Linked DNA regions of Homo sapiens. The protein of the gene in region 3 interacts with the protein of the main gene of each other region in a pairwise test. Each region holds a gene or a part of one and is shown on either strand. Other genes may lie near its edges. The genes, in order: SYCE1, ATXN1, EDRF1 and PHYH.

Region 1 (7,934 bases), 7.8 Mb from region 3:
TTCTCCTTTTAGGGGCTTGGGACTGGCCTGCAGGAGGTTAGTGTCCAGGGTGGGAATTTACACCCATCCCCATGGCCACATGGTCCCCTCCTGCCCCATCACCACCTTGGGTGGACCCAGTATGGGAAAGGCCCTCCCCATAGACCATCCTCTGAGGAGTCCCAGGACCCCCTCCCTTGTCCTCCCGCCCCTTCCGCTGTCCCTTCAGTAGCTGTTTCTGTTCCCTGACGCCCACTTCTGGGGCTTACCACATCTCCTGGGCCAGCCTCTTCCTCTTGTGTGCTCTGGGCTTGGGCAGGGACTTGCATTCCATGCTTTTCCAGCTCTTCCTTCAGCCTGGACAGGAAGAGGTAGGATGGGGGAAGGAAGAGGAGGAAAGGGTGGAGGAGGGACAAGAGGTTTTCAAGAGTCAGAGAGACAGAAGGTGGAGAGAGGAGATACAACATCAGTCATCTTCCTGGTGGGGGTTGCGGGGACAGGGCCTCCACACGCACCTCTGCCGCTTCTGCTGCTGTTGTTGGCACTTCTGCTGCAGCTGCTGGTGGCGCTGGGCAGCAGCTGCTAGGAGCTCCTCAGCCTTCCTGTGCTCTTCCTGAAACAGCTGCCTGGGGGGCCCAGTAGGGGGTGGTCAGCACCGGCCACTCCCTCCTCCCACCCTCTTCCCCTCCACATCTTACACTGTGGCTGCAGCCTCCTGGCTGCGGAGAAAGAGTCCCTCATCAAGGGTGGAGGGGCCCTCAGCCCCACACAGGGAGCACAGCTGATGCTTCACGTCTTCCAGTGTCGCCTTGACCAGCTTCTCTGCAGCACAAAGGGGCAGGTGAGCACATGAAGGCACGTGAGGTCAGATATGGGCCATCCACCTTCCCTGGTCTCACCTTCCTTGAGCAGCTGCTCCTTGCTGCTGTCCAGGGCACAAATCTCCTTTGCCAGCCGCTCTGGCATCTGAGGGGCAGAAAAGAGGCCTGTCCACTCCTCTTGGCTTTCCCCCATGCCTCAAAGAAGGCTATCTGGATCTTGTTTCATACTTACTCACTATGCCTCACTTCCAACAACTCTGCCCCTCTGTGCACACCAGCTACAGTACAGCCTCAGGGCCATGGCACTGGCCATTCCCTCCCTGTGCACTTCTGTCATCCCACATCTCTGCGGTACTGCAGTGGGGATGCTCATGGATTGTTATTTACAACAGATAAACCTGCAAGCACTGTGAGTCTTGGCTGTTTTCTGGAGGATCAGGTACCGGTTTAGCTCTGCAGCTCCTCCCCACTCCCCTCTGTCCTGGTGTGACCTCCTCACTGAGCCCTTCCTTCCTGACACTCACTGTCTATTTTCTTGTTCAGTGCCTAGGATCCTCCTGGGGGACAAACACGGGCTGCTTATCCTCGTTGTCTCCTTTGTGCCCGTGATGGTCCCAGACACATCCACGGACAGTGATGGAAGACTTGACCTTGGTCTCATCAGAGATCCCCCTGACCACTGAGCAGCAGGGTCACAAGGAGGTGACAAGGGACTGGATTCAGGCAATGTCGATCTTAGCACCACCAGGGCTTGCTTGGCGACTGGTTGTGGCAGGTGAGAGGAAGAAGTGACCGTTTGGGCCTGGTGCTGCTAGGGAAGATGTGGAAGGGGGAGGAGTGGCTTTGAGGGACTCACGTGGAAGTCCCAGAGGTCCTTGTGCTGGCCCATCAGATCTTCCAGCTGTTCCTCGAATGCCAACCTGGGAACCAACCACAGGCATGAGGGGATATGGGCTGAAATCACCACCTTCACAGCCTGTCCAAGTCTGTGGTTCTTCAGGCAGATTTTGGGGTGCTTTGCCCATGGTCTCTGCTCCACTGGGAACATCTTCACCACCTTGAATCTCCATGGCTCAGTGTAGCCAGCTTTTCTAACCCCCATCTTTGACATTATATCCCAACTACTGGCCATCCAAACCCCCTGCCTCAGATGCTAAGGTTTACCTCAGCTGTCTCTGTTTGTTCTTCTCTTCTTCAATCTGCAAGTTCAGGGCAGAAATTCTCTCCTTGCACTCCTGCAACATGGTGTGCTTCCTGGGAGAGGCGAGGCAGCCCTCAGCCATGTTCTCTTAAGCCCCAGGAGGGCACTGGGCTGGGGCTTCTGCCTCCCTCTATTGAGGCTATTTTTTCCCTCTACATTAAGGTCCTTCTCTGTAACATGTGGTAAGTAGGGAGTGACATGACCATTTGCCCCCTGGAAGTATTGTTGTCAGGTTAAGAGAGATTAATGTGGACATGGTTAAGTGAGCAAATGCACACACATCTTAGTATCATCTCGTTTTCCCAAAGAGCTGAAATCTCAGTGTGCCAGGGCCTGGGGCCTCTGGTAACAAATGAGCTAAATCAGGAGGTGGAGAAATGGATGGACAAATCGATGGGTGGATGAAAAGATAATGGATGAATGGAGAGAGAATGGACAAATGGTTGGCTCAATGCCTAAATGAACAGACAGATGAGTGAATAGACATCCAAGGAGTATGACAAAGAGTAAAAGGCAAAAAATAAAAACCAGCTGAAGAAATTTAATTGACAATTTAGCAAATGAATGTCTTGCCATTGAGAGAGTTTCCCTTAACACTACTGCCAGCTGTTGGAGCCGAAGGGGAAAGACATTCTTTGGACTCTCCATTGTTTAGAGGGAAACAATGAGAGCTGTGGGTCTCAGATTCATCTTCCTGCCTCTTTCTGCTCTACCAGAATAAAGAGGTAGTGCAGAGTTAGGCTCAGCTGGAAGCTCTTACCTGTGTGCCTCACTTTCCTTTTCCTGGCAATGCAGCCGGAGGATCCTCAGGGTCTCTGTAGGGAGAGCAACAGGGCCCTATGAGAACCTGTCAAGGTATTGGGTTTTGGCAGGGGGAACACAGCCAGATCATGTCAGGTCTGTGGACACCTGATTGAGCTTTAACATTTACTACATGTCTGGTGGAAGCCACAGGAGAGAGGCAAGCTGGGACAGGTTTCAAAAGGCTTCAGCTGCCATAGGGAGAGTGGGCTTCTGTGGGTTGGCAAAGGCACAAGCCTGGAGACAGGGGAGCGGCAAATACCTTGTTTTTTGCTCAAGATCTCCTTCAGGTGTACTTTCTCTCCATGCACTAGAAAACAGTGACACATTTTGGCATCAGGGACTATGCACTGCACCCTCAGGGATGGGGCTTGCTCACGGTCACATGGGAAGCTGGGCACAGCCTTGGCCCCAACCCAAATGTGAACCCTTGAGGTGAGCCCCTCCCTACCCTCTGGTGCCCACATTCCTTGTAAGCACCAAAGGGCCTTCACATTTACAGAGGGTGGCTGTGAGGGCCCTGGAGGATGCTCGTGCTTTTACATGGGGAGGAGAGAAAAAATACCAACACCCACGAAGTGGGATAAGGGCTATAAAGAAACACATCAAATAGGATGGGGCATGTGACCAGATGGAGGCAGGGTGCCATCTTTAAATGGGATGATTGGGGAATGCCAGTCATCCTGTCTGGGGACATTCTAACTTAGAGCTGATGATGTGAGGAAAGAGGAACCTGTATTATCTGAGGAAGCACAGACAGCGTCTGGCAAAAGCCCTGAGGTGGGAATGAGGTTGGAGGGTGTTTCCTGAACACTCCCACAAGCAGAGAGGAGAGGGGGAGATTGGCAGGACATGAGGCTAGAGAGGGTACAGGACCCTTGGCCATGGCAAGGATGCTGATTATCTGGAATACAGGGTTAGGGGAGGCTTAAGACACTGTGGGGACCTCTGGGTGACCCCCGGCTCTCTTACGCGAGTCCAGTTCCTTCTGCAGGGCCTCACAGATGGTCCGGGCCTCTCCTAGGTCTTTATTGGCTTTCTTTTTTGCTTCACCAAAGAGCAGAAAAACATTGTGTGAGTGCAGCCTCTATTCTCTTCCCAACAGTGACATTTCTCATTTGCCTTCAGGTAAATCTATAGTGGCCTAGATTTTATAGAGTAGGAAACGAGGCTTCCAGCTCTCCTTGCCAGGCTCTGCTGATAGCAGGGCCAGGATCATGGGCATGTAACTATGGCAGTCGCATGCTGAAATGCCCTGTACTTAATTTAAGGCTCTGCTGTTGCTGTTGTGAATAACCAGTAACTTTGGAACAAGGGACCCTGCATTCTCACTTGGCACTGAGCCCCGCAAACCATGCAGCTGGTCCTAGCTGGCAGCCAAGGCCCCTGAACTCACCTTGCTGGACCTCATTAATCCGGTTAATCAGGACCTCAACTCGGGGCTCTAGGCTTCCCACTGCACGGAGGAAAGGAGGTTGAGTTGACAGGGCAGGCAGAGTTGGGGCGGTTGCCAGCCTTGTGTCTCTGCTGCTTTCACGCAACACAGATCTATTGAGTACCTCCTGCAAGCAGGTGCTCTGTGGGGCCCTCACGGGGCTCACGTTCTGGGTGGGCAAGACTGGGAACAGACACAATAAGATACCGAATGGGGCTGCGGTAACCGTGTTCAAGAGAAATGAAGTAGGCCAAGGGAGGCTAAAGAGCAAAGGAGTGGGAAGTGCTCCTGAGATATGGGAAGGGACCTGAGGGCCCCAAATCAAGTGGTGGGGGGCAGGCCCTGCAGCAATTTGGGTGGGGTTGGGAGGTAGTCAGTGCAAAGACCCATCATGAGGTGGGAACATGGCTGGCAGGAGCCTAGCGAGCAAAGAGGGAGTAGCGGGTGAGGGGGAAGGAAGGGAAGTGAAGGCGGCAACTTCTGGATCTAATGGACTGCAGTGGAGCCAGATGGGTGACCAGCGAGAGGTTTGGGACAGGGTTTTGGGAAAACATTTTGCCTTCTATACCCTTTTGCTTCTTTAATTTTGAAACATGGGGCCCTATTTTTAGTTTAAGTAATTAAGTTTTAAAAGAAAGAGAAGGTGAAGAGGATTATTTCCCAAATTCGTACATTGTGGGGCCTGAAATTAAACCCACATCTGCCTGGCCCCAAACCTCAGGCTGTGCCTCACACAAAGGAGACACACGACCTTTCTGCAGCTTTTGCACCATTTCCATCAAGTCTTCAATTTTCTGTGAGGACGTGTCCTGCCCTGTGGAGACAAAACCAAACATTTCAGAATCAAGCAGGGCGAGAGGCCACCCCTGGGCTGAGACTGAGGCAGGCTGAGGGCAGGTCTCCAGCCAGAGTGGTGCCCCTTCTTCTTGTCCTGAGGTGGACAGTACACTAGATGAATCGGGCTCCTCCATGGTCAGCTTTTCCCTATAAGGTAAAATTATACCAGATATCCTCTTTGTAAAACTCTGGGTGAGGGCAGGGGTGCACTCTCACTGCTGAGGCTGTTCAAAGTAAGATCAAAGCTCCTGATATAATTCAAGAAAAAAAATGAGGGTATAAAAAACTGGAGCAAGGAGTCAAAAATCACTGTAACTGGCAGATGACATAATCTAGGAAGTTCTTAGAGAGTTTTCTACAAAACCATAAGGATTAGTAACAAAATGCATTAAGATGTTAGGTTAAAAACATATATAAATACAAACAAGCTTTCCTACATACAACCAATACTAACCCTGAAATTTCCCCATAAAATATTTCATGTTAATTTTTTATAATCACTATTGGAACCTATTTTTAACACTAAAATTAGTAGATCTAAGAAATTACTATTTATGGCATTAACATTGTGAAAGGAAAATAAATCTTTTTATAAATAAATCTTTGAAAATAAATCAATTCAAAGTCATCCCTCTGCTCACTGAGATAAATGCATATCTGATTTTGTAAAATAAATATCTGAAAATAATTCAGTCATCCTTCTTCTTACTCAGATAAATGCATATCTGATTGCCTCCTTTGGAAAGGCTAATCGGAAACTCAAAAGAATACAACCATTTGTCTTTTATCTACTTATGACCTTGAAGCAAACCCCCCTGCTTCAAGTTGTCTCATCATTGCTTTGAGTTGTCCCACCTTTCCAGATCGAACCAATGTTCATCTTACATATGTTGATTTGTGTCTCATGTCTCCCTAAAAAGCATAAAACCAACCTGTGCTCTGACCACCCTGCCACCCTGGGCACAGGTCATCAGGACCTCCTGAGGCCGTGTCACAGGCATGCATCCCTAACTTTGGTAAAATAAACTTCCTAAATTGACTGAGACCTGTCTCAGATTTTTGGGTTTCACATTTTGGCAACCACAAAGGGATTCTGAGTAGAGGTGCCCCTGACCTTTGACAAATATCCTATCAGTGCTTGCTAGCAGCTTGAGCTATCTTTATGGTTCAAACTAATATGACAAGTTGCTGAGTTCTGGAAGTCCCCCATCCAGGGAATCCCTCATTTCCCAAAATTCGCTCCAGATCCAAAGTTTATTTTTCTAAACAACTCTACTCTTTTTTTGGAGTTTTTCTTGCTTCCAACAAGGAAGGCAAGTTTTCCTGCTTCCATGAAAGTTCCTTTCTGGAGTTTGAACTCGCTCCCAACAGGGAAGACAAGTTTGAGGGTTTTTTTCCTGCTTCTAAGATGATAGAGAGCAGTCTTCAGCCTAAGACCCATCCCTAGGTAAGTAACTGAATTGGGGTTTGTCTTGGCTAAAGGTAAAATTAACAACCAGCTGGTCTTAATTTTTCCTTATCATTAGAGTGTCCAGTAACCATACAAGTTGTGTGATCATTTGTTTGTTTTGCTTAACTGGTATTTTTTTTTGTTGTTGTTTCTTTCTGTTTTTGTTGTTTTGGTCCTTTTCCTATTGGGTTTGGCCAATTCTGACTTGATCAAATCCAAAGGAAAGTTCCAAATTATGTGGAACAAGGCCTCTGAAGTGGCTAAATTCCCACCAGAAAAGGGGTGGTGGGGGAAGAAAAAACAGCCAGCAAAAGGAAAAAAGGGGGGGAAGATTTTTGATTTTGACTACTTAAGGGGATTTATTTACATAACAAGGCCACCTTTTTGCTAGCCAGGCCAAACTGAAAGAGAAAGGATTGTCACCCCAACTGCAGTTCCATAGCTAAGGTTCTGTCTTCTTTTTTCCATGACAGCCTGGGTTTGGTTCCTAAATCAAGACCTTTCTGGTTTGATACTTGGTACTTCTGAAATAGCAGATATTTGTCCTAGCTGAAATATGTTGATGAGATCTTAAAAATTTTTTAAAAAGAAACTCAAATGGTTAAAAGTCATCTTAATTAAAAGCTAACATCCAATGTGTGTGTGTGTGTGTGTGTGTGTGTGTGTGTGTGTGTGTGTGTGTGTGTGTGTATTTAAAAGGGCTTCATGATTTTTCTTTTTTCTCTCTCCTAGGACCTTGTGTTTTTTGGGCAAAAGTTTTTTTTCTTTTCAGTTGACTGAATGCTATTTTCTTCATATAGTTCTGCTGTCTCTCCTTTCCCTTGAACGCTCTGCTGCATGAGGGACCTAAAATAGTTTATAATAGCCTGAGGTTCCTTAAAGAAAATGGAGAAGGCACCAGACTCCCTTTTGTGGAGAAAATTGTTTTTCCTTGTGTATCCCCAAGAGTGTAAACACACAAGTTCATGTCAGCTCCTAAACTGTTTGCTTTTGTATTGTGTTACCTGATTTTTTTGTTTATTAATTATTGCAACAGAAGCTACTCCTGCATTTTTAAGGAAGAGTATATTTTAGACACTTAGAAATATTTTTTTAATGTTTTTTAAGTACACTGTAAAAGCATCCATGTGGTCGAGCCTCATAATAATTCTCCCTTTTTGCAGACCCAGGATTCAGTGTGGCCTCTTCCCAGAGCTCAGAGATCCAGTTAAAAGATAGGTAGTCACTATCTAAATAAAATTGGTCTCCTGTGATCCAACCACCTCCCACCAGGCCCCAACTCCAACATTGGGGATTACAATTCAACATATTTGGGTGAGGACACAGATCCAAACCATATCACAGGCCAAGGCCAAGGCCGAGGCACGGTTGAGAAGGCTCAGAGGCACCTGACCAAAGTTTGTAACAGTT
Region 2 (7,934 bases), on a different chromosome or scaffold from region 3:
TCCTCTGATTGCCCTCTCACTGTGCATGCATCAGTCAATATTTTAGCAGCTCCGCAAATAAATGGACTTGAATGCCATCTTCTACATAAAGCAGAGGTTGAAGGGCTCCCCTGAACCTCCTGGCTGCCTGTCAGTGGTGTAGGTTTTCGGTGCACTTACTCCAGTCCTGATCACTCATGTAATTAGATCAGGCTGCCATGGCAACAGACAGTGTTCCTCGTCCATTCAGGTGGGTTTGTCTTGTGCCTGAACTACTCCAAGTGTTTTATGCACAGCATTTATGCTGCCCAAGCCAGACGAGAGACTCCACTATTTCAATTGCATCTTCTTTCAGTCATTTGGATGGGAGACACTGAATGAGGCTTCTAGCTACTCAACTTTTATAAAGGAGACCAACAAGCTGTTCTTCCTAGGTGCAGTATGTAAATGCATCTCCCCAGACAGTGAAAGGAGCCTGACAATCCTGCTGGTGTTTATTGTGAACAGATCAACAAGTATTTGGTACTTGTTAGAAACCTTTCAGAGCTCACTAAAGCAACATTTCTTTTGCAGTCTGGTGCCTTTGGCCTTGCAGTCAGTCACTTAACCCTTTCAAGTGTGAAGAGCGTTCATCATTTGGAACCTCCATTGCCCATAGCGATGGCTGGATTTCTAAAGGGTTTACTCAGGGGAATAACTTATTCGGAAAATATATTCCCATTGTCACATTTTAAAACTTGACAGCCATCATAACAAAAACTGGTACTGACAGTAGGCAGACATTCTGAATGTATTCATTCTTAATTTGGATCTATTGGCTGTGATTTGAATGATCTTTGGTAGTAAGTTAAAAGGATTTTTTTTTCCTTAGCTAAGCGAGAAACGATAGAGGCCTATAGCTAGAGGACTGATAGTGCATGGTGCTTTTGGACAATAAACATGTACTTTATTTTAGGATGTAATTTAGTGAGCAGTTAGAAAGCAGTATTCTAGTCTTTGCATTAGGGCACCACTGATAAAGCTGGCTAAGCAAAGAGAAATAATATTATGGCAAAAAGGAAAAAAGGAAAAGTTGCTTTAGTTGCTGAAGCTCTGTGCTGCTCAGGCAATCCAACTAAGTGGGGCAGGGGGCGGGCGGGGGGGAGTATTTTCATAACCCTGGTATTTGAAAGAAAAGATAATTGAGAATTATGTCTTGATTTAGTTGTGACTGCCAGTCAGTTTACAATTTTATGGCCAACAAAGCTAAACTGGTAAATTTTTTCCCCCAGGGCTAGGATTGAGAGAGCTACTCAACTCTATTCCCAGGGGGTTTATGAGTTTTTACCGTTTTGTGAGTTTATGTGGTTGGTAAATTCATTGTGGCCTGGTCAGATGAAGCACTGCTGTAGTTAAAATGAGCTATTATTTCTTCTAGCTACTCAACTTTTATAAGGTGGTAAATAGATGGGAAGCAAGGATGTCAATATTACACAATGCCTTGGAGGTCCTGGATTCTATTTTGCAACATATAGAAAAATGCTTTACTTGCAGTAAAATGTGAACATATATTTTTCAGTGCACAAATAAATTCATGTGAAAATAAGTATAAAAAAATGTACCTGGTGGGAACCGCCAAAGGCAATATTTTTCCTTGCGGATTTCGTTTTAAGAGGGTTTGGTAAACAGAAGTGACACTTTGTCAAAAATGTTACGACTAGACTTCAGGACTTCTGAATTGTCTTTTACACTTAGAGGAAGATTAAACAGAAACTCTTTAGCCACAAGATTACATGTCAAATGCCTGTAAGTTTCAACATACCTAAGTCAGTTGCCTAGGAGTCCTGGGAAAGGCCAGTGCTGAGATTATTGAAATATTAGTAAACATTACTATGACTCCTGTTTTTGTTGTCATTATGGAGTCCAAGGACGCACATTTCTTTGAATAATGTTGTGCCTTTATTGTTTTTCATTCTGAAATGTCAAGTGGATTTTACTTTTTTGCACATACCTTGAGTGACAGTTTCTGATGACTAACACTAACACTCATTTTGTTTCCTATTAAAAGTTAAGCAATAAACATATTTTACTAAAATTCTGAAACTCACGTAAGTAGGTAAATGTGGGAGTGAATGTTAATTCTTTAAACTGTAGTTATCTGAAAATAACACATAGATTAGGATCTGAACAGCTTAAATACTTGCATCGGTAAAGTGACAATAGTGAAGTAAGACAGGCTATTATTTTTAGGGGAGAGATAGATTATTTGACTTTCCTTGCTCTGTATTTTCAGAGTAATTCAATAGTTCGAATGATTAGTTTCTGTGAGAGATTTAGATCTGTGCAGCTTAATTGCTTCAAATAACAGATTTAGTTCTGGTCATACTTCCAAGGTTATCAGAAGCAGGCCCTCCTTATTTTGATAAAAGCATTGAAAGCAATACATTGTAGAAATGGTAATAGAAATAATAATTTCTGTTTTAGGACCTTACATATAGAACTTCCTTTTCTAAGATAAGAATTTTAAGTCATCAATTATGTTCACATTTTATTTTCATGTAATTTAGTTTAATAAAATAAATGTACTCATTCAAAATTTTTTTAAGAAGTGATATACAGTGTCAGTTTTACAGAATTTTTTAAATGTTGGCTGAAAGAACGGTAATTACATTGAGATTTTTAAAAATATATAAATGCTTAAAATTACAGAAGTAATAAAAAGAATGGTTTTAGACAAATCTTATGGAAAGTTTTTTATTTTATTCTTTTATAATTATATTTATGGATATTTGTCTTTATTAGTGTAGTAATATATTTTATAACGCTCATAATTTGAACTTTCAGGCTAATGTACTATAAATATTTGTATTACGCATTACTACCATCCCAAATGTACCAAAACACGTTTAGAGAGAACAATTATGGACAAAAAAGCAACAAGCATTATATTTTGTTTGACATATTTCATGTTAGCAGAAATGTTTCATTGATTTTTCTGTAACTTTTAATGCATCCCATTTGTGGAGTAATGAAAATGTAATGATAATTGCCACAATGTAAGCAAAAATTGTATCCTACCTGAAAATTACTTTCCAGAAAATTCATGGTAGTGTACTCAGAATTTGAGACTCAAGAGGGCAGAGGTTTCCCCGATTGTGATGTTTTGATTTGGGCTAAGAGGAACTCTTTTTTTTTTTTTTTACACTTAGGTGCCCTTTAACATGACAAGTTTTGAATGAGTTAGGTAGCAGAAGTTTTTCGTGACAGTTATTGTAGCTACTAACCTATAGCATCTATCCTTCTAACGTTCAAAGAAAATATATTTTTCTGTCACTGTGTATGGCAAACTTTATTTTCTTGTGCCCTTAATTTTGTTCCCCTTTCTCACATTATCTCCTGGTACTTACTGACCATTACCTCAGTTTTGTTTAGGCCGTCTTTCTTGTTAATCTTCCAATATTAATAGTATTGTATTATGTTGCTCTGCTGGGTTTTAAAAATATTGAGTATTCCATTTTTGGTGTATATTATTGTATAAAATGTCCTATAAATTATTTTCTGGTATATTATTTTGTAAGTTTTTGCAGTGAATACGTGCTGCCTTGCTTGTATTCTTGCCTTCTTCCCTCTGATGGAATACAAGTTATGTAAACTCTCTGTATTATCCTAACTAGTGCAGCAACACAAATACTTTTGAAATAAGAAAGCATACTCATGCAAGAGTAAAGTAATCTTCTATGGCATTTACATCATGTTTGACCCTCCTCTGCACTTCAGCAAACTAGGAGGAGGTTGTAACTTGGACTCTATAAAACCTTATCTGCCAGGTGATATGTAAACAGGATTGTGTGCACACACATTGTCATATAGGCAAACACTCTCCCAACTGGTGAGCTCATAAAAAGCACTGTCTGTAAATTTATGGTACCTGCACCTCATTTGAGAATCAAGTATTTTGATGCTTAATTTGAGATGACATCATGATCCTCCCTCCCTGCTTCCTCATCCTTAAAGAAGTACTAAGATTAAATAGAATTTTGTCAACTTCTACTTAACTTGGCCATTATTTATATTTGTAACTCAACAGGCTTCTTGGTGGAGGGACTGTGCCTTCTAAAGATCTGAAAGACCTTATAGTGTATAACAGCTTACCTTCCTTCTCTGTACGCACAGATCACATGTGGGGAAACCAAGGACTACAAGAATTCCTTCTTTTGCATATCAGTCCTCGGCAGGCAATCAATGCTTAAATAAATGCTTGGTGAATGGATTAGTTAGAAGTAAGAACATTTTGGCTACTGTTCATTACTTTGAAAAGTGCTGGAAAGAAGTGGAAGTTATTTTCCTTTCCAGCTGGGCTGTGCTCTTAAAAATAGTGAGTGTGTATGGATGAAAATAATCATGAGTACCGAGATGTGTTGCCATGTACCCAAGGATAATTGGCTCACTTACCTGTTTACGGATTATTCACATTGGAGATCATATTCATAGCTCCAGAATAGTTTCTTTCTGACATCCAATATAAACCTGGGCCTCCTTCTTCCTACTGTTACCTGGCGTGAGCTTAGGAAACCCAAACTAAGTTTAAAATCAGCCTAAGCAAATGTGCAGATCAGCTCCAGTAATCAAAGACTGAAAATCAGTCCAGCATTCACTAGTTTGGGGATGATTTTATAGTAACCCTGCTACTGATTTTAAAAAAATTTTTTTTTCTGTTTAATGTGGATAATTGGTAATTACCGGTATTTAAGAATATAATTTTAATGGATAGGGCTAAAAAAATACGTTAGCAGATCGAGTCCTCAACTTCTTCCGTTTCTATGCATAGGTTTTACCTCACAAAAACTACTACAAGCACCAAGCTCCCTGATGGAAAGGTATATGGAAGATTCATTCATTCTTTCTTTCATTCATCCATTCACACATTCACTCATTCATCATACAATGGAAAATTTTTACTTAACCATGTGCAAGGAATTGTGGCAAAATGAAAATGAGATGTACATTCAGTATTTAAATAAAGTTTAGTGGAAAGTTTAGTGAATATAAATGCACACTTTACACTTTTTTTCTGCATTTTTTCCTTTCTTCTATTCCATTGGACTGGTATGCTAATAGCTGTGCACTTTCATCATTGTGTTTCAAGTTGCATGTTGATAGATAATATATGCCACATTAAAATTAGGCTTTGGCTCAATTACTATTCAATCCATGCCCATTTTCACCTGATACTCCTTGTAGTTACCAGCATGTGTTTATCAGATGATTGGCTAGAATCATTGGAGAAAAGAATGACAGCGGCTGGCTCAAATGGGGAGACCATCCTCTTAATTTGATGGAAGGGATGACCTTTTTGTATGTTGGCCTCCCTCTGAGCCTTGTTGAGTAAAACCAGACCTGCCTTTTGAGCTGGCTGGGATCTGTGTAATTCTCATACAACAGAATGCCGAATGTGATGTTCTTAAAATTTGTATTTCGGTGCATAGACACTTAAGGTGGACTTATTTTTTAAAGCAGTCTATTCTGTTTTTCATTTTGGATTTCCTCTCCTGCACTCCCTCGACCATTGCAGGAGCATCGTGCATCAAGTCACCAGGGTGGTCCATTCAAGCTGCAGATTTGTTTGTCATCCTTGTACAGCAATCTCCTCCTCCACTGCCACTACAGGGAAGTGCATCACATGTCAGGTGAGAGTTTTGCGATGCTCTCTGTTTTCCATCTGAGGATAAAGTCCTGACCTGGAAAATTGCCTCCTAGCCATGCTCCCTTACTTTGTTGGCTGTTGAATATCATTTTCTTTGCAAACTCTGTTTGGGCATAGTGTGGGAAGTTGAGAAATTGCCAAGATTGTTTTTTAAAACTTCGATTAAAGTATCTATCTATTTGGTTTAATCTATATGTTCATGAAGACTTTCATTTGACTTTGCGATGATTGATAATTGCCAATTGGGGCTTGAACCTCATCATTTTAATTGTCAGTTTTCCTTAATACAATTAAGAATGCTATGCTACCAGATATCTTAAGTCACAGTTTTTGCATTTTAGATTACTGTTGTAGTATAATATGTGCGTAGCAAAACAGAGACCTATTTGTTTAGGGGAACCAGTATTTGTTGAATCTTGAATTTCTTTGTGTCTGTTTGGATTTTACAACTTCCTGATTTTCCCACGTACAGTAAGTTTTTCTGGCCTGGAGAGTCATGCAGACATAGGGTGTATGCAATGGTGATGACTCATGGTTCTCTATTGAAGAAAGGGCCAGAGGATATTGCCTCAAATTAAATCAGGAAGGAAAAAGAGGTTTGCTAGAACTTGGGGCAGTAAGGGCTTGGGAACACAAGGGTTTGAGTGTATGTAACCAAGGGAGATTGTGAAATAGAAAATAGGGGATCAATTTCTATTTGCCTTGGAAATGGACCTGCTTGAAACTGTGAAGACAGACTAGATTAGAGGTTCCCAAGCCTGGCTAGGCAACAGAATCACCTGGAGAGCTTAAAAAAATAGAATTTGGAGCTCCACCCTAGACTTGATGAATCAGAATGTTTCCTGCTGGAATCATTGATCTGTCTAGGCACTGATGCTCCACAGGTTTGGGAACCCCTGGGTCGGCCGGTCTTCCAGCAACTCTTCCTAAGTTATGTTCTGTAGACTTAGTTGGTGAGAAGCTCATTCTACTTTTAGCAAATCTCCCATTTGAAAATTTGAATTTTCAAAACTCATTTTTCAAGAGGTAGATGGATATTTGCTTTATAACAGGTTCATTTAAACAATAATTGACCAGATTTCTTTGAAGAAAGAGCTGCCTCTTTACCGTAAGAGCCAATTTTTAAGTTACATATAAATTCTCTGGCATCTTAGATAAGAGCATGGAGCTCCGTAATCAACCCATCTGGACTTAAGATCTGGAGCTGCCACTATGACCTTGAGTAGTCCTATGTCCTTTCAATGCCTCAGTTTATTCATGTATAAGATGGAGGTAATATTAGAACTTTCTTATAGGGCTGCTGTGAGGATGGACTGGAGTAAAATAGTAGATATACTGTGGGTAGAATAGTACCTGGTGTATGGTTTGTATCTTTTAACAGATGCTATCAAGTAACTTATCCCTCAACAGGTTGATTGTTATGGTCATGTTTTATGATGGTTGCTCCTGAACCATACATGACTAGAAATATGTAAATATACCTGGACCTTGGTCTTTGGACCCACCCTGTAGACATCTACGGCTCTGCAAAGCCAAGGAGCCTTTTATTTGTTTTTGCTGAATTTTAAATTCTGAATTTATCACAACTCTCTGACTGATGGGATGCATGTGTGGTTTTTTTTTTTTTAGATTGTTGTAAAATGAACTGATGAATTGCATGCATAAATGTGGTTATTTGTGGTCTGAGTAAAAATAAACAAAAACCTGAGTGACTGAAGTATTATGCCTCAGGAAAAACAGCCAAAAAAGTCCCAGTGGGGGACAAGGTGGAGGAGGGAAGAGTCATCACAGACACGATACTCTTGTAAAATATGGAACTGGATTCCTTACATTTTATTGGCTGTGGATTAGAGAGGTGTTCTTTAAGTGGAAATGTAACCTAAAGTTACATGCAAAGGTAAGCCTCTTAAGATCTACAAGTGTCAGCTGAATGAAAAAGGTAGGGTGGGCCAGGCACAGTGGCTCATGCCTTTAATCCCAGCACTTTGGGAGGCTGAGGTGGGTGAATCACTTGAGGTCAGGAGTTTGAGACCAGCCTGGCCAACATGATGAAATCCTGTCTCTACTAAAAATATAAAAATTAGCCAGGCATTGTGGCAGGTTCCTGTAATCCCAGCTACTTGGGACACTGAGGCAGGAGAATCGCTTGAATCCTGGAGGCAGAGGTTGCAGTGAGCCCAGGTCTCGCCACTGCACTCCAGCCTGGGCGACAGAGTGAGACTCCATCTCAAAAAAAAAAAAAAAAAAGAGAGGAAAGAAAAGAAAAAGGTAG
Region 3 (7,934 bases):
TAATTATATTGCACCTGAGAAAACGGAAGCTGAGAAGAGCTAAATAATTTGGCTCAAGCATACAGTAAATCACAAAGCATGCTTTGCTGTTAGGTAGTCCTTGGTAAGTGTCCTGACTCTGCCATTTAGTAGTTGGAACATGGTGATGTCGGGTACCTTTCAGGCTTATAGACTATAGATGTGCTTCAGGTGGTACGTGGCATCAGTTGGCTGCTCAATTAACATTTTTTTTTAATTTCCTTTTGTGGCTGAATTGGTGTCAGGTACATTTTTTTCATGTATTTTTTTAAGAGGTATTGTATATCACTAGAAACACAATCTCAGAAAGTAAAATCCTGATAAATGTTTCTGTTTCTGTTTTTCTTATCTCTCCACCTAAAAAGAATAAAGTTTTGAACTATTTTCCCTTGGAGACTTTGAGTTTTGTGATTACAAAAATAAAGAATAATTGTTTTTATTCTAAATATTTCCTACTGGATGCTTCTAATGATTATTACCATGTTTTATCAAATCTAAGATGCCATTGACTTTAAGACACACCATTATTTTAGTACCACTAAGAAAAAAAAACTTGCCAACTGTGATGGTGATACACATCCTGGTTTCAGAGTTGTTAAAATGTGGAAAATGTGTATCCTAGAAGCAATGAGCTACAGTATTGTTATTAAGCTCTACTTGCATGATTATGAGCATGACCTCATAACCTGTGTCCTTTTTTCTCTTTGGTAGCTTTGGCATGGCATATGACTTTATTGATTCAGTGGGAAATGATGTGGATGTTGTCTCTGACTCTGAAGTAAGTGTTATTTGTCGCTTAATGTAATTTTGGAGGTGTTTTGTGATAGGTGTTTTATATCATGCTGTGTTTTGCATAATATAAATGTGCAAGTCTTGAGAAATTAGTGATGAAATAAGATAAAACTTACCTGATTATTGAGTATCTTTTTTGTTGTTAAAGTATCATTGTTTACCACATTTGTATTTAAAGAGGAAGGAATAATCAATCCCCAAACACTGGCAGTGGTAATAATATATTGATGGTTATATTTTAATGATAGTAATTGAAACTGATAATAGTGTTTGGGATTATTCTGTATATGTTACCAGTTGAGTTACAAATGATATTTCTAGTAAAATCTATTGGATCCTTAGTGGCTTTGATCTGATATGCTAAAAGCCTGGGTCAGCATAACAGTGTGACGTATACACCCTTAACTTTAAGAAATCCTATCATGTAAAAATAAATGTTTGACTGTCACTAACATAATGTGACTCATAAAGTGTACGTGATTCTGGTTTGAAAGCTCCGTCCTCTGTGTGTTTGCATGTAGCTTTTTGTTTAAAGTTCTATTTGTATAACCTTAAGGAAATAAGGTTTATTATGCTTTAAAATGAATGAAGCTAAAATTTAAAAGATTCCAAATCACACTAAAACAGTCTTTCTAAACTATTTTTTCTCTTAATTTTTTAAGAACATAAAAAAACTCCTGAAAATTCCCTACAGCAAGTCGCACGTGAGCATGGCAGTACACCGCATAGGAAGGACTCTCTTACTAGATGAGCTAGATATTCAAGAACTCTTTATGAGATCGTCTCAGGTAATGCTTTTGTGAAAAAATCCAACAAAACATTAACAGCTTAAGAGCACTAGAAATACGATTTTGTTTCAGAGAATGGCCAAAGTGGAAATGTAGTTGAGTACTTCAACAATCGAGAAATTGAAAGTTTCACTGAAGATAGAAAAGCTTGAATGAAGAAAAAAGAAGAGAATGAGAATGGTGAAGAAAATTATTTTATTGATTCCAACAGCCAGATTCTTTTTTACAAGAAAAAAGATGAAGCCAATGAAGAAAGTTGTGAAAAAAACTGTGAAATTTAAGGGACTAGTTTAATATTTTTAAGAATCCTTTAACGTCTCCCTTAAACAGATTCTCAGGAAACACAGCTACTGGAAAATGTGAAAAATATTAGAAGCTGTTCCTATGAATAAATACAGTCATGTTCCCATAATGACGTTTCAGTCAGCGATGGACTGCATATACCGGTGGTCCCATAAGATTATAATATACTGTATTTTTACTGTATTTGCAGTGTTCAGATACACAAATACTTCAGTCACATGTACAGATTTGTAGCCTGGGAGCAATAGGCTATACCGTATGACCTAGGTAGGGAGTAGGCTGTACCATCCAGGTTTCTATAAGTAACACTCTGCGATGTTCACACCAGGACAAAATCACCTAATGACGCGCTTCTCAGAATATATCCCCATTGTTAAATGACACATGGCTGTAGTTATTAGAATTAATTGATGCTCTTTAGCCTAGATTCTCAAATTGTATGTTGGTAAGGACTGTTTTTCCCACATGTTGAGAATGGATACTTTTGAAAAACATAATAACATTGTTGCAGTTTCTCAAGAACTACCCTCCATATCTGTACTTTTCTTGGGCTGGCAAGAAATAGTTCATGGTCAGTCTTTAAAGAATATTACTACAGTGCTTTGATAAAGAAAATTAAATTATGGTGAGGTAAATGACATTTAAAATAAGTGCTTTTTTCCTTTGAAAAGACCACCGTTTAGTTCATCATGTGAGTATGAGCCTAGGCACGGGGATGTGACAGTGAACAAATCACAGGCCTTGCTCCTCAGCAGTTCATTGTTTGGGGTTATAAACACATACACAGATCATTTCAATATAGTGTGCAAAGTGGGAACTACTGCAGCTGCTAAGGAACATGTTATAGAGAAGACTCACCTCTCCCAGCCTGGCTTAGGAGGAGGAAGACGGGTTTCCTTTAGGAAACAAAAAACAAAAGAAAGGTGGTATGAATTGACCCAGAAAGATATGTTTTTAATGAGTATGTGTTTATGAAACTATTCAAAAAATAATAGGAGCCTTTTCTGTAAGCTAGTACTAGGTAACATTGTTTCGACTATGTGTGTTGTATTAATAATATGTATCTCATGTTATCCAGACTGGTGACTGGACATGGTTGAAAGAGTTTTATCAAAGACTCATTGATCAGAAGTGGCAGAGGAAGAAAAAGAGCAAAGAGCACTGGTATCAAAAGGCAATTCTTTCCAAGTTTTTATATTACAGGTACTTGGCTACTTATTTATCTCTAAAGAGAAAAAGGGAATTCTGATCTAAAATTTAGTGTGAAGCTTAATGAAGTTATAATTTAAGTTTTGCCCCTGTGATACTGTTAACATTTGTTTCATATTTCTTTTTTACAAGATGTATGCTTAATTACAGATTGTAGTTTTTATAAACGGGTAGACTGTTGCATGAAGTTAACTTTAGTAACAGCAATCCTTTTTTATTTCTGGTTTGGCCAGTATCAATGGTGATGGAGCCGCTCAGCCTGTCTCATCCACCGCAGAACAGCAGGAATCGTCCAGTTCAGATCAGACAAATGATTCGGAAGGGGCTTCATGGCCTGCTCCCTTCGAAATGCCTTCTTCAGTTTCTGAAGATCCCAGTGCTTCCAGTCAGGTTAGTACTTAAATGCTAATTCTAGAAACTCACATAGGAAAACAAAGCCTTTTTTAACATCTCGTTAAAAAAAAAAAAAGATGAACAGGACTAAGAAATATTCTGTCAGCTTATGGAATGGGGGAAAAAAGACTTCTGTCAATTTATGGAATTGGAGAAATACTTTTTAGTTTTTCGCAATAGAATTTACAAGAGCTATTATAGGTGGGGAGATCAGATTTTTTTATTAAATCGAAATATAATAGTTGACTGATATGTTTATTAATACTGATTATCTCCTTCAAGTGATGAGTATTATATAGAGATATAGTATATTTTAATTATAAATACTAGTCATTTTTAACTATAAATACTATTTTAACTATAAATATCTGTCAATATTTGATAGACATTTCCTACCAAATATTGAGACTCAGAGACCCATTTGTAATTTAAGTTCTAACCTTTTTACCATAACTTTCAGTCAGATTGTTAGACCTAAAATATCCCTTTAAGGTTTTCCAGATAAAATTCCTGAAACTTAGTCCACATTCATGTTATAAAAGTTTTAGAAAAGAGAATGAACTAGGTTGTCCATTTTATCTCTTACATCCTTGTTTCTTCCTAATGCTTGTTTATTTTTGTACTTACTGTATCTATCAAAGAATAAAATAAAGCCATAGATGTAAATTGTGACATGTCTATTTTCAGGAAAATAGATTGATAAATAGATAATAAGATCTGTGACTTGATAAGTTACGTCTTCCCTCTTGCTGTTGTGTTCCCACATATTGAGCACTATTCAACCAGATTGTTTCAATCTTCACAAATTACAGGGAGCAGATACATTTAACTCGATTTTAGTTTCAGTAGGTTTAAGATAGAGAAAGCATCCCATAAAACTCCATAATGAATTTAAATTTCTTTCAAAAGTGAGAAAAATGTAAGGAAAAGGAAGTAATTAATATGCAAGTCACATAGTGGTAACAACCAAGAAGTAGGGATGTTCTATGATTCAGAAGGGAGAAAAGACTACATAATACAAATACTACCCTCCTATTACCCATGTCACCCATCTCCCAGTGTTGTTCTGTCTTTACCTTGTTTAGGAATTACTGTGAAAACTCTTGGAGAGTCGGGAATCTGTAGACTTGCGTGTTGAGGAAGCAAGCTGGCATTTACTGAATAGCTCTTATGCCATGTGTATGTTTGTACAAGGTTTTTTTTTTCATTCTTGGAGCTGCGTATTGTACAAATAAGTAAACTAACGCTCATCAAAAGATGTTTCACATGGTCATACAGCTGGCGAAACTCTCAGGCTAGGGCTTAAACCCAGATCTTTCTGCCTGCAGAGGCCTGTTCCTCCAGCAGTACTCCACTGTGTCCGTGTACTCCACACACAGCAAGGCCCTACTAACAGTCAGATCATCGTAGTAGTGGTGTATCCCTAGGCACAGCTAGCCTGCCTTAAGAGTCTCTTACAGAGTACTTTTCTTATATTGCTTAAATTTCAGCTTTAGAGATTTGTTTATATTTGCAAGCTATCTCTGCACAAATTCTTGTTCCAAAAACTAAAACTGCTGGCTTGAGGCCTTTGTTAAGCAGTTATAGAGGTTAAATAGGTGACTGTGGGATGGTCCTAGAGCCAGACATTTATTGAGAACGTTGTAACCTAGAGCTCATACTCTGACTAAAGCAACTGCCTGGCAAACTGTTTTGAGAATCGGTTCATGAGTTGATAACTTGTCTGTGTAAACAAATAATAAAATAAAAAAGAGTTTAAAGTTCTCTTAGGACTCCTGAGGGAGAGGACAAGGCACAATAGAAGTGCTAGAGAGCCACCTGTGCTTATAGTCACACACTCTTCCCAAGCAGGTGCCAAGCCTACTGGCACACACAGATGACAAGTAAGACAGATGTTTGTGGAATAAGCAACACACGCATGCCTGTCTTGGGTTCTGTTGAGGCAATGACATTAAAAGCTTAAAGTAGTATTTCTTAATGGCAGTACTACTTTCCTAATGATTGGAAAATTGAGTGGTAGGCTGAGTTTACCCAGTGTCAAGAGGGCCCAAGTGTATTCCAAAATGCATTCCAGGCTGGGCGCAGTGGCTTATGCCTGTAATCCCAGCACTTTGGGAGGCCGAGGTGGGTGGATCACTTGAGGCCCGGAGTTAGAGACCAGCCTGGCCAACATGGCGAAACCCCATCTCTATTTAAAAAAAGAAAAAAAAATTAGCCGGGCATGGTGGCACGTGCCTGTAATCCCAGCTACTCGGGAGGCTGAGGTAGGAGAATTGCTTGAACCCAGGAGGCGGAGGTTGCAGTGAGCTGAGATCATGTCACTGCACTCTGGCCTGGGCAACTCTGTCTCAAAAAAAAAAAAAAAAGTATTCCAGAGAATATCTTAAGAACAAAAAGTGTTCTGAGATTAAATACATTTGGGAAACATTGGTTTTTACAAAGATAAAGTAGATTTTTCTATTGCAGGATTACTTATTATATATTTATTGTTTTAATATCAATAAATATTGTTACTCCACAAAAGTGAGTACCTGGTAAACGTCATCTTTCAAACCTGACTCTGGAAAATTTTCATTCAGTTTCCCAGGAACTAGTGTTCTGTGAAACACTCATCAGGAAATGCTAAACTGGAGACTGTTAAGATAATGAGTATCTCAAACTGTGGCTGAGTAAGATTTCTTAGGGTTTCTTTTTTTTAAGAGACAGACTCTCATTATGTTGTCCAGGCTGGATTCGAACTCCTGGGCTCAAGCAGTTCTCCCCTGTCGACCTCCCACATAGCTTGGACTACAAGCACATGCCATCGTGCCTGGCCAGTTTCTTAGGAATTTTTAAATTCAATATAGATAGAGTAGGCTGAAAGAGCAGTGGTAATCAGATGCACCAAAAAAGAGAAAAATGAAAAACTTAGAAAGTTTAGAATAATCTTTAATCTATCTCTCTTGAGTAAGATCTAAATGTGATTCGCTTCTTATAGTAGCTATGATCATTAGCCAAAGCAAGCCACCCAATGAGGCGTGTTATTATTTGTATTGGCCTAATAATTCACAATGGTAGATTTGAAGTGTGTGCTTTGAATATTTAGGTGATACTCTCAAAAGTGGGTCAATTTTAAGAAATGTTGACAGCAGAATCACTCCTTATCCTTGCACTTTTCACAGGGAAGTGAGCCTCTTGAACCCTCATACATAGTGGGGCATGTGGCCTCAGCCCCCAAAGAACAAAACCTGATTACTTTATTCAATGACGGGGAGCACAGTCAGGTATGCTTTCCATGGTGTCCAAGGTGACAGCAAATCCCCAGTCTACTTTGTCATTTCAAAACTAGCCTAAGTCGAAATTGATAGGGAAAAACTCCACTTGATCCTGAAACTGCTTTCTAAGCATCTTTGTGATCTTAGCTCTGGGGCCTGACTTTGTCTTCTTTGTCTCTTCCTTTTTCTAGTCTTTTTATGGATCATGGGGGGAAATTACAGATTGACTGTTTATTATAATCCTCCCTATTTTAAATCACAGGGTCTTAAAAATGATTTTGTTCGGAATATTCTATGGACATTTGAAGATATCCATATGTTGGTCGGCTCCAACATGCCCATATTTGGAGGAGGCAGATACCCAGCAGTCAGCTTACGTCTCAGGTGAACTAACATCATACCCCTCCTCAAGCTTATGGTATTTAAATTCTTCCTTTAGAATCAGTGTTCCATCAGACTGAGGTTGCAGTGAGCCAAGATCATGCTACCGCACTCCAGCCTAGGCGAAAGAGCAAGACTCGTCTCAAAAAAGAATCAGTGTTCCATCTATTTGGGCATCTTCCTCTTTCTCTAGGTTTTTTCCCCTCCCTCCTTCCCCTGCCAGTTGAAATGGCCACATTAAGGAAGGAGCTACTGTCAGCAGATGCTGAAAGGCAGGCCTATAGCTGAGTCTTCATTCTAGACCTCATTGAATAGAGCCAGAGGTTTGTTGGACTGGCCTAGTCTTAGGTCTGAATCTACAACTTGTGAGAATATTCAAGAGAGTTTATTTAATTAGTTAGATTCCTACTAACTACTTGTGAGCATTTTTCTTAATGCTCCACGTGTATTTGTTGATATTAGCCAATGTGAATTCCAACTTAAGCATGGTCTTGTATGGTGTTCAGTCTTTCTTCAAGTTGTGTGTGAGGAGCAGGCAGTAGGCTCACCGTCCTTTCCTATTATATTGTCTTCTATTCTTACTGAAAACTTACCAATGTCAGTTAGAAATACAAGCAAGCTTTTGGAAAGATGTTAAATATAGCACAACCACTGAGCTGCATGTGCATATCTTATCAGAAAAGAAAGCATAGATGGCATTTTCTATCTAGAGAGGACAGCTTAAGATACTTAAATGGTGAAATAACTTTCAGATGATTAATTAAGGAACATCTTAATTAAACCAAATAACACTAGA
Region 4 (6,700 bases), about 110 Mb from region 3:
TTAGCCGGGCGCGGTGGCTCACGCCTGTAATCGCAGCACTTTGGGAGGCCTAGGTGGGTGGATCACTTGAGGCCAGGAGTTTGAGACCAGCCTGGCCAACATGGTGAAACCTCGTCTCTACTAAAACTACAAAAATTAGCTGGGTGTGGTGGCGTGCACCTTTAGTCCCAGCTACTCGGGAGGCTGAGGCGGGAGAATCACTGGAACCTGGGAGGCAGAGTTTGCTGTGAGCTGAGATCACACCACAGCACTCCAGCCTGGGTGACAGAGCAAGACCGTGTCTTCAAAAAAATTAAAAAAAAAAAAAAAGAGTGGGTGCTTGAATATTTCTTACATGCACTAATGGACAAAAGGGACATGGATCAGATGGGAAATGAATGTTTCCTGATGGCAACCAGTTGGTTTTCACTCACAAAGGCACACAGGAAATAACAAATTGCTCTTCAATATTCCTACTGAAATTTAGTTTTTCATATTCACTTTAAATTTGAAACAATTTAGAGTTTATTCCATAACAAAGCAGGGCTCCCCACATGTTGTTTACACAGGCATTCCTTTATTACGTTTTATTTCCAATCATCCCATAATCTAATTTCCTTAGATTCTGTCAGTGATCTGCCTTCTCCAGTTCCCAGTGGGAGATGAGCTTCACTTGGCTGTCCTCACAAACAAAACGGCACTCATGGCAACACTAGATTTAGGAAAACTTGTGCTTAGCAGAATGACAAGAAAGGTACTCTGTTATTTCTTTCTTACTAAAGCCCTAACTAAAATTTGTAAAAATAAGGACTATGTCTCCTTGCTGCCCTCAGCTGGTACCGAAAATATGGTGCTGTCTTGAAATAAGTTTGTTCAGTCCATGCTCACTCCAAATCCAGGGAAAAGTATCTAAAAAGTTCCCTATAGCTTGAAGGAGGTTAGGCTTCATTCATAAATGTGGAAAGTTTCCAGCAGCCCTACCCAATAAGATACATCAAATGAAGTCACCCTCATCTTCGTTCTTTTTATTTATTTATTTTTCATTCCTTTTTTTTTTTTTTTGAGACAGGGTCTTGCTCTGTCACCCAAGCTGGAGTGCAGTGGTGTGATCTCAGCTCACTGCAACCTCTGCCTCCCAGGTTCAAGTAATTCTTCTGCCTCAGCCTCCTGAGTAGCTGGGATTACAGGTGCATGCCACCACGCTCGGCTATTTTTTTTTTTTTTTTTTGTATTTTTGGAGAGATGGGGTTTTGCCATGTTGGCCAGGCTGGTCTTGAACTCCTGACCTCAGGTGATCCACCCACCTCGGCCTCCCAAAGTGCTAGGATTACAGGCGTGAGCCACTGCACCTGGCCCTTGTCTTCATTCTTCAGGAACAGAGGAAAGGACTGGAAAGAACAAGTCTTCTTGTTAAGGGAATGGTTGGGTTGAAGAAATCACAGGAGAAAGCCCTTGTCCGAGCAGGAATATCCACTTTATTTGGACTCCATGACACCGTTCCTATGCCCTTGACTAGATGTGAATGTATTATACATTGTTCTAGATTTGGGGGAAAAAAATCTCTTATGACATAAAATTGGTAGGGAATGGGTTTATCAGAAAGGGGATACAAAACATACCCTAAGCTCCAAATCATTCACTTCTTCTTGGGTAAAGAGCTAACTGAATGAAAGAAATTGATTTAACACTTAAATTAGACACCAACCACCTTTATTGGCTGCCACCCTAAATTAGTTTTCCTTAAAACAGTAATATTTCACTTTTACTGTTTTTTTTTTCCATTAAAGCAACACCATTGTGCTGCAAAACTAACTCTATGCAATTAAGTACCTGATACATGTTTTCTGCTTTTAACAAGTGATAGAAAAGGTTACATCATCTCATTAAGAAAACATTTTCCTTAGACATTTCGTTTGGTTTTGGTTTTCTGTTGAAAGAGTTATAGCAGATGGCTATTTCAAAGATTGGTTCTTTCTCCTTTCACAAGTCGAGCTCGAAACATCCAAATATCCTGGAAATAATATCAAACAGAGTGGGTTTATGGAACACTTCAATCTGCCCTCCATTAACCTTCAATTTCACCATAACACAAAATTGATTTCTAGCTTCTATGAAAGGTTACATAGGGAAAATAATCCCTGTAAGTTATATTCATTAGTAAACAAAACAACTCAACTTAAACTACTTACTCAACTCTTTTTTAAAAATTTTTTGGGGACACAGTCTCACCCCATTGCCCAGGCTGGAGTGCAGCGGCTCACTGCAACCTCTGCCTCCCGGGTTCAAGCGACTCTCCTGCCTCAGCCTCCCGAGTAGCTGGGATTACAGGTGTGCACCACCACGCCCAGCTAACTTTTTGTATTTTCAGTAGAGACAGGGTTTCGCTACACTGGCCAGACTGATCTCAAACTCCTGGCCTCAAGTGATCTGTCCGCCTTGGCCTTGCAAAGCCTCCCAAGTGCTGGGATTACAGGTATGAGCCACCACTCCTGGTCTACTTAACCGACTTCTAAAACAGTGTTAACTAAATTAAGTCAGTGGGTCCCCCAGCTGCTGTCAGTTCTGTTTTATTCAGGATATTTGTTGGTGCCAGCTAACATAACTGGGTCAATGTCATGTCGGGTTACAGAACAAACAGTTCACTGCCATTTTTCTGCATAATTTTTTTTTTTGAGACGGAATTTTGCTCTTGTTGCCCAGGCTGGAGTGCAATGGTACCATCTTGGCTCATTGCAACCTCTGCCTCCTGGGTTCAAATGATTCTCCTGCCTCAGCCTCCCAAGTAGCTAGGATTAGAGGCATGTGCCACCACACCCGGCTAATTTTATATTTTTAGTAGAGACGGGGTTTCACCATGTTGGTAAGGCTGGTCTCAAACTCCTGACCTCAGGTGATCCACCCGCCTCAAACACCCAAAGTGCTGGGATTACAGGAGTGAGCCACTGCACCTGGCCTGATGACTCTTATGTTACTTGTCTGAGCCTTTTTGAGTGTTCTACTCTTGATGAGATGATAATAGTGAACATGGTATCAAGGATTACTGCTTTGTTTGGTGGGTTTCTTCCCCCTCTGCCCTTAATAAAATAATTTAGATGTTCTTATTTCTTGGTTCTTGTTTATTTTTGAGCAAACAGCAAGGTATGGTGGAAAGAATAATTTTCAGATTTGACCTGACTCTAAAATCAAGCTTTGTCGCTTAGCTAGCTTAGATCAGCCTCTGGGATTTGTTTTCTTGTCATTGACAGCATGGAGTTTATACTGCCCCACCGGGTTTTGGTGAAGAAAATAAGAAAATGAATATGAATGTGCTTTTGTACTTTACAGAGAACTATGTAGCAGAGGTTAATATTGTTATTCTAAATATAACTTACAGAGTAATTAAACTAAATGTGGGAGGTATTCATTTAGCACAACCTTGACAAACCTCAAACATAATGTACATATATTTGTTCTCCCTTAAAATTTAGGATGTTAGCTCAAAGCTCCAGTTGACAAAATGTATAGGCATTTTAGGTACTGAACAAAAAGTGAGGAAGGACAAGAATTTCTAGGACCTGCAAATGCAAAATCAGAGCATTTTCAGAGATGCGACACATTTCCAGGTTCTAAAGGGAGAAGCAAGATTCCTTCTTTTGTTGTTGTTGAGACAGAGTCTCGCTCTGTCGCCCAGGCTGGAGTGCAGTGGCATGATCTCGGCTCACTGCAAGCTCCGCCTCCTGGGTTCACACCATTCTCCTGCCTCAGCCTCCCGAGTAGCTGGGACTACAGGCATGTGCCACCAGACCCAGCTAATTTTTGTATTTTTAGTAGAGACGGGGTTTCACCATGTTGGCCAGGAAGGTCTCGATCTCCTGACCTTGTGATCTGCCTGCTTTGGCCTCCCAAAGTGCTGGGATTACAGGCGTGAGCCACCTCGCCCAGCCATAAATACTCTATTCTATATTAATAAACATGGCCTATGATTGGATCTCAAACCTATAACTTTCCTTCTATCCCTTCAGAAGGCTTTTTTTTTGACACATGGTCTCACTCTGTCACCCAGGCTGGAGTGCAGTAGTGCAATCAGCTCACTGCAGCCTTGACCTCAAGCTCCAAGTGAGCCTTTCAACTCAGCCTTCGAGTAGCTGGGACTACAGCTATGCTCCACCCAACCTGACTAATTTTTATTTTTATTTCTTTTTTAGTAGAGATGGAGTCTCACTGTGTTTCTCAGGCTGGTCTCCAACTCCTGAGCTCAAGTGATTCTCCTGCTTTGGCTTCCCAAAGTGTTGGGATTTACAGGCATGAGCCACCATGCCCAGCCAGAAGGCAAGGTTTTGTCTTTGATTTTCTCTCATCTCAATCTGTAGTTTTGTTTTCCTTTACTGTCCTGTGTGAAACAGGACAGCCAGCACACCTCTGGACAGCCCCAAGACATAAAGAAGCAGCAGGAAGTTCTCAAGCCTCCTGCACGGGGGCACAAGTGTAAATGGAAATTCCATTGTCATTTTTGGTGGGGGCTCAGCGATGTCCCTAAAATGAATCTAAACCCAAGCACTATATACTGTCAAATAAACTAGGTATGAGAATTATGAAGCATCTGAAGAAAAGAAAAACCTGAGATTTTTACCTTGCTATTGTATACAAACATACCTTCAAGTTCACGCTATTTTCAGCTCCAAAGAATTTATGTGCTATTCCTACAACTTCCTTCTCGATGTTTTCTTGACTGGTGCCCTTCACGTCAATGTAGTGGCAATCGGCACTGGCGAAATGGCAGGAAATTGCCTGTGCAAAGTGAACAAATTGATATTGGAGAAAAACATCCCATGAATACCAGTGACCAAGCAGGGAGTCTTTCTTTTAGAAAGTCATTTATTTCACTCAGTATTTGATTTCTAAGTGGAAAGTCAGGTCCATTGCATCCTGTGTCAATCTCTTTGTAACTAAGCCTGTTTTTGTTTCCAGCTAGAAGTTAATTGAGAAATTTCAAAAGATCGTTAACCAGATGTGACATGTATTTTTGAAAGGTATATATGGGAGAGGGAATGGAATTATGTCAGTAAGAGGTATTTAGTTTTTTTTTTTTTTAGCATTTTATTTTCCTAATGAATGAATATCCCAAAGTCTTAAGAAGGACTGCATTCCACGGCAGTTTATCTCATAAGTTAGTTACCTGGTCCAATTTGGGATGAATTGTTATTTCAGTGGCAATAGATTATGAAAAGAACTAAAAATACCTTGAGATAGAAAATAATGCAGACACCTTCTCTCAAATCAAAAGGACATTTAAAAGCCAATACCAGTGACATATATTACCCCTCTTGCTTCCTTCTGAGGGTAAGGATGAAATTGCTTGGTTCTCCCTATTTTAGAAAAAGTTATAAACAGATCTAAGCTGCAAGGCAATCGTTAAAACTTACCTTTTTTGTCACAAGTGATCACACTTGTCAGAAAGACTTTCTACTTTGCCCCAAACAACAAATTTCTAGGGAGTGGAGTCACAAACTCCATTGCCTCTGTAAGCCCTGGTGCCATACGGCACTGTAACAGAGCCCAAGGCAAAGGGAAAACACGCACCCCTATATCTGTATCTTTATGAAATTATAGTAATATTTTCCCAGAACATTAAAGTCATTAAGCCTGGGCACGGTGGCTCATGCCTGTAATTCCAGTACTCTGGGAGGCCAAGGCAGGAGGATCACTTGAGGCCAGGAGTTCAAGACTCGCCTGGGCAACATAGCAAGACCATGTCTGTACAAAAAATGAAAAAATAAAATTAGCCAGGTGTGGTCATGCATGCCTGTAGTCCCAGCTACTTGAGAGGTTGAGGTGGGAGGATGGCTTGAGCCTCAGTGTTCCAAGATGCAGTGAGCTATGATTGCACCACTGCACTCCAGCCTGGGCAAAAGAGCAAGATGCTGTCTCAAATAAATATATAAACAAATAATAAAATGTTTTAAAATAAAAGCATTAAAAAACATTGGGCCAGGCGAGATGGCTCACATCTGTCATCCTAGCATTTTGGGAGGCCAAGGTGAGACGATCACTCAAGGCCAGGAGTTCGAGACCAGATTGGCCAACCTGGGGAAACCCCATCTCTACTAAAAAATACAAAAATTAGCTGGGCATAGTGGCGTGTGCCTGTAGTCTCAGCTACTCACGAGGCTGAGGCAGGAGAATTGCTTGAACCTGGGAGGCCAAGGTTGCAGTCAGCTGAGATTGCATCACTGCAATCCAGCCTGGGCAACAGAGTGAGACTCCACCTCAAAAAAAAAAAAAAAAGAAAAAAGGAAAATTGCCAAGTCTATATATTAAAACCCACAACATGATTTGTGTCGTTGTGCCTGCACCTCGCTACTTGCACAGCTCTGAAGGTTGTGCTAGTGTGGGGTCCAATAGTGTCTTTTATTTAAACTTTTGGCATTGTGCGCAGCCAATACATTGGGTATTTTGCATTAATTTTGATTTTTTTAAATTTCGCATTAAAATGTTACTAAACTCGATTGCAGAGTCTTTTTTTGGCATCCCCTTACATTTTACCCCTGGAGAGAGTGCCCCAACTTGTCCCACCCTAATCCTGACCCTGATGAGGCTGGTGGAAATATGAATGAATGGAAGACGAAATTTGGCCCCTAACCCATGGCCTCAGGAGACAACAGTGATTTTTTCTTTTTTAGTAGAAGTGGGGTCTCGCCATGTTGCCCAGACTGGTCTAGAGCTCTTGGTCCCAAGTGATCCT

Evidence for each region.
Region 1: the proteins of EDRF1 (region 3) and SYCE1 interact in binary tests that used the Homo sapiens proteins (3 or more experiments, as listed by UniProt).
Region 2: the proteins of EDRF1 (region 3) and ATXN1 interact in binary tests that used the Homo sapiens proteins (3 or more experiments, as listed by UniProt).
Region 4: the proteins of EDRF1 (region 3) and PHYH interact in binary tests that used the Homo sapiens proteins (3 or more experiments, as listed by UniProt).

Annotation. Positions count from the first base shown.
Region 1 is NC_000010.11:133,555,103-133,563,036, forward strand, and holds part of SYCE1 (synaptonemal complex central element protein 1), read right to left. Parts: intron 5,052-7,934; coding exon 4,989-5,051; intron 4,259-4,988; coding exon 4,199-4,258; intron 3,850-4,198; coding exon 3,775-3,849; intron 3,113-3,774; coding exon 3,065-3,112; intron 2,817-3,064; coding exon 2,762-2,816; intron 2,055-2,761; coding exon 1,965-2,054; intron 1,721-1,964; coding exon 1,657-1,720; intron 946-1,656; coding exon 879-945; intron 802-878; coding exon 678-801; intron 606-677; coding exon 495-605; intron 337-494; coding exon 249-336; intron 28-248; coding exon 1-27. UniProt on the Homo sapiens protein: Major component of the transverse central element of synaptonemal complexes (SCS), formed between homologous chromosomes during meiotic prophase. Requires SYCP1 in order to be incorporated into the central element.
Region 2 is NC_000006.12:16,750,944-16,758,877, reverse strand, and holds part of ATXN1 (ataxin-1), read left to right. Parts: intron 1-4,786; exon of another isoform or gene 4,787-4,835; intron 4,836-5,530; 5' UTR 5,531-5,645; intron 5,646-7,934. UniProt on the Homo sapiens protein: Chromatin-binding factor that repress Notch signaling in the absence of Notch intracellular domain by acting as a CBF1 corepressor. Binds to the HEY promoter and might assist, along with NCOR2, RBPJ-mediated repression. Binds RNA in vitro.
Region 3 is NC_000010.11:125,722,339-125,730,272, forward strand, and holds part of EDRF1 (erythroid differentiation-related factor 1), read left to right. Parts: intron 1-729; coding exon 730-796; intron 797-1,472; coding exon 1,473-1,598; intron 1,599-2,979; coding exon 2,980-3,104; intron 3,105-3,343; coding exon 3,344-3,500; intron 3,501-6,664; coding exon 6,665-6,766; intron 6,767-7,019; coding exon 7,020-7,141; intron 7,142-7,933; exon of another isoform or gene 7,934-7,934. UniProt on the Homo sapiens protein: Transcription factor involved in erythroid differentiation. Involved in transcriptional activation of the globin gene.
Region 4 is NC_000010.11:13,276,365-13,283,064, forward strand, and holds the end of PHYH (phytanoyl-CoA dioxygenase, peroxisomal isoform a precursor), read right to left. Parts: intron 4,747-6,700; coding exon 4,612-4,746; intron 1,991-4,611; coding exon 1,937-1,990; 3' UTR 1,435-1,936; downstream 1-1,434. UniProt on the Homo sapiens protein: Catalyzes the 2-hydroxylation of not only racemic phytanoyl-CoA and the isomers of 3-methylhexadecanoyl-CoA, but also a variety of other mono-branched 3-methylacyl-CoA esters (with a chain length of at least seven carbon atoms) and straight-chain acyl-CoA esters (with a chain length longer than four carbon atoms).